Linked DNA regions of Homo sapiens: region 1 is linked to region 2. Evidence: fine-mapped expression QTL. Tissue or cell type: whole blood. Region 2 holds a variant in brackets; the other region holds the start of a gene. All regions are shown on one strand. Distances are between the middles of the regions.

Region 1 (2,905 bases), 24 kb before region 2:
CTAGAGTCCATCTCCAAAAAAAAAAAAACAAAAAAAACAACAGGAGATCCAAGAGATCCCCTGAAACCTGCCTTTGTTCCCTGCTCTAACCTAACCACCACCCCCTCACACCCCTGCAACAATTTCTCCACTAGAGGGCAATAAAAAATCTTGAAAGCTGCAGTGGGGTAGAAGAGTTGCCCAGAGGCCTGGCCCTTAATTCTAACACCCTACTCCCCTGGCCTCCCCTCCAAAGCTCCTTGACAGTTTGGGTCTATCACATTCTCTGAGCCTTAACATCTTCCTTCAAGCAGTGACCATCTCCAGCTAGGGTCCTTACTCCCAGTTTCAGCAGAGGAAACTGAAGGACTGTGACTTGCCCAAGGGGAGCCAAGGCCTCCCCCAGCTCATCTGCCTCCTTAATGTCACAAGGGGCCCAGGGCTAGACCATATGTGGCTGAGGCGGGGAGCCCAGGCTCTGTCCTCCAGTGTGGCATTCTCACTGCGCTTGTGGGGAGCCTTCAGCTGCCCTACCTTGTGAAGCCAGAGACCTGGGGTTGGGGACCCTGAGGATTAGGTCTGGGGCTCTAGCTGCAGGAGCCTGGCTGAGATCCTTCATTGCCTAGGGGGGTCTCCTTGATGGGACTTACTCAGGACCCCAGGGGATCGGTTTGGAAGGGGCAGTCCTATATAGGGGTTAGGGATGGCAGGGCCAGAGGTCCCAGCCTCTGGCGAGGGGCATTCCCTGGCCTCCTCTGCCCTGGTCCCAGTCCTTGGGTACTGAGAGGGAGACTACAACAAGGAAGCACTAGGACAGTCTACTTACTCCTAAGATGTCACTCATCCTACAACATTCATCATAAGACCAGTCGCACCCAGAGCCGTAGTGAGGCGGGTGAAGCTGCAGATAGATAGATGATAGATAGATAGATAGATAGATAGATAGATAGATAGATAGATAGATAGATTTTTTTCTTTTTTACAAGAGTGTCTCTCTGTTGCCCAGGCTGGAGTGCAATGGTGCAGTCACGGCTCACTGTAACCTCCACCTCCCGGGTTCCAGCGATTCTCCTGCCTCAGCCTGTAGCTGGGACTACAGGCGCGCGCCACTATGCCCGGCTAATTTTTGTATTTTTGGTAGAGACGGGGTTTCACCATGTTGGCCAGGCTGGTCTCGAACTCCTGACCTCAGGTGATCCACCCCCCAGCTCAGCCTCCCAAAGTTCTGGGATTACAGGCATGAGCCACCGCGCCCGGCCGATAGTTATATTAATCCTTTCTTTCATTTATGGATCTCAGGAAAAGGGCAGACTTGGTCGGGAGAGTAGACCCACCAGAGCTTCAGATTCCAAAGCCCTCCGGGTCAGGGTAACTGCGGCAACCAGAGCCCCAGCCCTCTGGTCTCGCACGTCACTGGAGGATAGGGGCTGGGCCACGGGAGGGCGGGGCGCGCCCTCTGGAAGGCGCGGAACTGCTGTGCGAGCCGAGCGCGTTGCTGCCCGGAGGCTCCTACGCCACGGCCCGTCGGGCCCGGCGCCGGAAGTGAGCTGTTCCGAGGCGCCGCCGGGAGCTGCCACGTCCGAGACCTGGAGCAGCCACCGCCGCAATCATGGTGAGTGTTGGTACTGAGGAGGCCTAGCAGGGTGAAGGCCACGGTCGCGGCCTTCACGGGTTCCTCGGCCGTCCTGAGTCCCAAATCCCAAGCTGGAGCCGTTCAGCTCCCCTCCACCGCTTAGAGATTTGGGGGGCTCTGGCCCCGTCCTTGCGGACCATTCCGAGGGGAGTCCAGAGGTGAGGCCGAGGAACCTCCCTGACTTTGCGGGGCGCGCCGCTCCTGCGTCTCCTGCCAGTCTCCCTTCCTTCTTTTCGGTCAACAATTGAAAACAAAACGAGGAACAGCAGAGGAGCTACTGTATACCGAGCCCTCAGCATTGTTCGTAATCTCCGCCTGCTAACAGCCTTGTGAAGAAGGTGCTATTCTTCTCAACACTTTACAGATGAGGACACTTGAGGTTCGGAGACGTGGAGCCTCTTGCACAGCTGCTTAAGTGGTAGTAGAGCCGAGATTTGAACCCTCCTAACCATTCCTTTCTGCCGCCTACTGCAGCTCCCAGCAGAGATGATTGAACTGTTGCTCGGGGTAGGGCCCCCAGGTAGGATGGGCACCTCGGGAAACGTAAAGATGGCCTGAACGACCCTCCGAAGGCAGGGGCTCAGGGTTTTTTAAGTCTCTGTGGCATCTGCAGTGTACATTCACTCCACACTTACTCCTTGAGTGAATGAATGACTGAAGGAGAACTAAAGAATGGAAGTATCTGGGCTGAGCCTGGAATATCTAGTACATGCATTCTTTTAGAAACATGGGTGTGTCTCAGCAGCAGGTTTGAGGGAACCTGCAGGAACCTAGAAATCAGAACACTGTGTTCTTGTTCTGCAGAGGGTTAGGTGTAAATCACTCACCTCTGGCTCTTCCACTGCAGGTTAGAGTTGAGGCTTTTATGCTCTGACATTCAGCTCATCCTAAATGAATTTTTAACTCATTATCTGATCTCAAAGAGGTGAATTATTTTGAGTGCAGGTGTTAACAGGGACCAGATAATACCAGGTCCCTGGGAAGAAGTACTCTAAGAAGTTCTCTCTCTCTCTCTCTCTCTCCCCACCCTCCCTCTCTCCCCACTCCCTCTCCCTCCCCCCTTCCTCTCCCTCTCCCTTTCTCTCTCTCCCCCTCCCTCTCTTCTCTCTCTCTCTCCCCGCTCCCTCTTCCTCCCCCCTTCCTCTCCCTCTCCCTTTCTCTCCCGCCCTTCCTCCTTCCTTCCGTCCTTTTCTCTCCCCCTCCCTCTTTCCTCCCCCCCCCCCCCCCCCGCCTTCTCTCTCTCTCTCTCTCTCTCTCTCTCTCTCTCATTCAGAAGTGTGGTTCATCAACCCT
Region 2 (2,905 bases):
GGCCAAGACGGGCGGAATGTTTGAGCCCAGAAATTCAAGACCAGCCTGCCAACATGGCAAAACCCCATCTCTACTAAAAATACAAAAATTAGGTGCAGTGGTGTGTGCCTCTGTAGTGCCAGCTACTCAGGAGGCTGAGGCACAAGAATCGCTTGAGCCCAGGAGGTGGAGGTTGCAGTGAGCCGAGATTGCACCACTGCACTCCAGCCTGGGCAAGAGAGTGAGACTCTGTCTAAAAAAAAAAAAATTTCCCTGGCTGGGCGCAGTGGCCAGCACTTTGGAAGGTTGAGGGAGGAGGATCTCTTGAGCCCAGGAGTTTGAGATCAGCCTGGGCAACACAGCAAGAGCCTGTCTCTTTAATAATAAATAAGAATTTCCCTCACACTATAGACAACTAGGAAATTAATTCAAGATGGATTAAAGACTTAAACGTTAGACCTAAAACCATAAAAACCCTAGAAGAAAACCTAGGCATTACCATTCAGGACATAGGCATGGGCAAGGACTTCATGTCTAAAACACCAAAAGCAATGGCAACAAAAGCCAGAATTGACAAATGGGATCTAATTAAACTAAAGAGCTTCTGCACAGCAAAAGAAACTACCATCAGAGTGAACAGGCAACCTACAAAATGGGAGAAAATTTTCACAACCTACTCATCTGACAAAGGGCTAATATCCAGAATCTACAAAGAACTCAAACAAATTTACAAGAAAAAAACAACCCCATCAAAAAGTGGGCGAAGGACATGAACAGACACTTCTCAAAAGAAGACATTTATGCAGCCAAAAAACACATGAAAAAATGCTCATCATCACTGGCCATCAGAGAAATGCAAATCAAAACCACAATGAGATACCATCTCACACCAGTTAGAATGGCAGTCATTAAAAAGTCAGGAAACAACAGGTGCTGGAGAGGATGTGGAGAAATAGGAACACTTTTACACTGTTGGTGGGACTGTAAACTAGTTCAACCATTGTGGAAGTCAGTGTGGCGATTCCTCAGGGATCTAGAACTAGAAATACCATTTGACCCAGCCATCCCATTACTGGGTATATACCCAAAGGACTATAAATCATGCTGCTATAAAGACACATGCACACGTATGTTTACTGCGGCACTATTCACAATAGCAAAGACTTGGAACCAACCCAAATGTCCAACAATGATAGACTGGATTAAGAAAATGTGGCACATATACACCATGGAATACTATGCAGCCATAAAAAATGATGAGTTCATGTCCTTTGTAGGGACATGGATGAAATTGGAAATCATCATTCTCAGTAAACTATCGCAAGAACAAAAAACCAAACACCGCATATTCTCACTCATAGATGGGAATTGAACAATGAGAACACATGGACACAGGAAGGGGAACATCACACTCTGGGGACTGTTGTGGGGGGAGGGGACGGGGGAGGGATAGCATTAGGAGATATACCTAATGCTAAATGACGAGTTAATGGGTGCAGCACACCAGCATGTCACATGTATACATATGTAACTAACCCACATATTGTGC[G/A]CATGTACCCTAAAACTTAAAGTATAACAATAATAAAATAAAAAAATAAAATAAAATAAAATAATAAATTTAAAAAAAAAACAACAACTAGGAAATCATGAAAAGTACATGAAACAACTACTGCTTTCAGACATAGGACAACAGGCAGTGTTTGGGAAAAGGGAAACAGGTAAGCACAACAAATGCACCAGGTTACTACTACCCAGAAGCAGTTTCTGGGCCAAAAGGTAAAGAGAGACTCCAGAGTCTAGTAGTCTCCAGGAGTTGAAGAGACAGAAGTCAGAGTTCAGGAAGACCAAGGCAGGCCGGGCGCGGTGGCTCACGCTTGTAATCCCAGCACTTTGGGAGGCCAAGGCGGGCAGATCACCTGAGATCAAGAGTTCGAGACCAGCCTGGCCAACATGGTGAAACCCTGTCTCTACTAAAAATACAAAAATTAGCCGGGCGTGGTGTTGCACCCCTGTAATCCCAACTACTCGGGAGGCTGAGGCAGGAGAATTGCTTGAACCAGGGAGGCGGAGGTTGCAGTGAGCAAAGATTACACCACTGCACTCTGCCCTGGGCGAAAGAGCAAGGCTCTGTCTCAAAAAACAAACAAACAAACAAAAAAGACCAAGGCAGAACTGAAGGCAGAAGAGGACGAGAGGAGGAAGCTGCACAGAGCAAGCTCCTGAGAGCTGAAGAGTCTCCTGGAGTCTTTGGACAAGTACTAACCTTCATATATGAAGGGTGAAACCAATAGACCAAGCAGCTGGAGCTCACATAGGGGTGGGAATAGCCCATGTTCCCAGCAACCAGAAAAAAAAGAGACATTCCATCCAGAAGAACAAATATAAGAGTGGCAGCAGGCCAGGCGCCGTGGCTCACGCCTATAATCCCAACACTTTGGAAGGCTGAGGCGGGTGGATCACGAGGTCAGAAGTCCGAGATCAGCCTGACCAAGATGGTGAAACCCCATCCCTACTAAAATTAGCCAGACATGGTGGTAGGTGCCTGTAATCCCAGCTACTCGGGAGGCTGAGGCAGGAGAATTGCTTGAACCCGGGAGGTGGAGGTTGCAGTGAGCCGAAATCACGCCACTGCACCCCAGCCTGGGCGACAGAGCAAGACTCTGTCTCAAAAAAAAAAAAAAAAAAAAAGGAGCAGCAGCCAACTTCTCATCAGAAAGTAGGCAAACCATAAGAAAATTAACATCTTTAAAGTACTGAAAAAATTAAAAAAAAAAAAACCTGTCAGCCTCAAATTCTATACCTAGTGAAAATATATATATATTTTAATACAGACTCTTTCAAATAAAAGCTGAAAGAATTAATCACCAGCAGAGCTGCCATTACAAGAAATGTCAAAGAAGTTTCCTTCAGGCAGAAGGAAAATACT

What was found. PIP is the estimated chance that this variant, and not a neighbour inherited with it, causes the effect.
Region 1: it holds the start of SEC13, and the variant in region 2 is fine-mapped to the expression of SEC13 in whole blood (INTERVAL, PIP above 0.99).

The regions. Positions count from the first base shown.
Region 1 is chr3:10,319,736-10,322,640 of GRCh38, reverse strand. SEC13 (SEC13 homolog, nuclear pore and COPII component) reads left to right here and starts at 1,529. Exons shown (of 9, transcript NM_183352.3): 1 at 1,529-1,591. The coding sequence starts at 1,589. RefSeq lists a silencer at 1,294-1,373 and enhancers at 1,221-1,816, 1,564-1,863.
Region 2 is chr3:10,296,077-10,298,981 of GRCh38, reverse strand. No RefSeq gene overlaps it. Among named protein-coding and RNA genes, the nearest start is that of GHRL, 4.6 kb to the right of the region's middle. The variant G/A (reference allele first, on the strand shown) is at 1,529.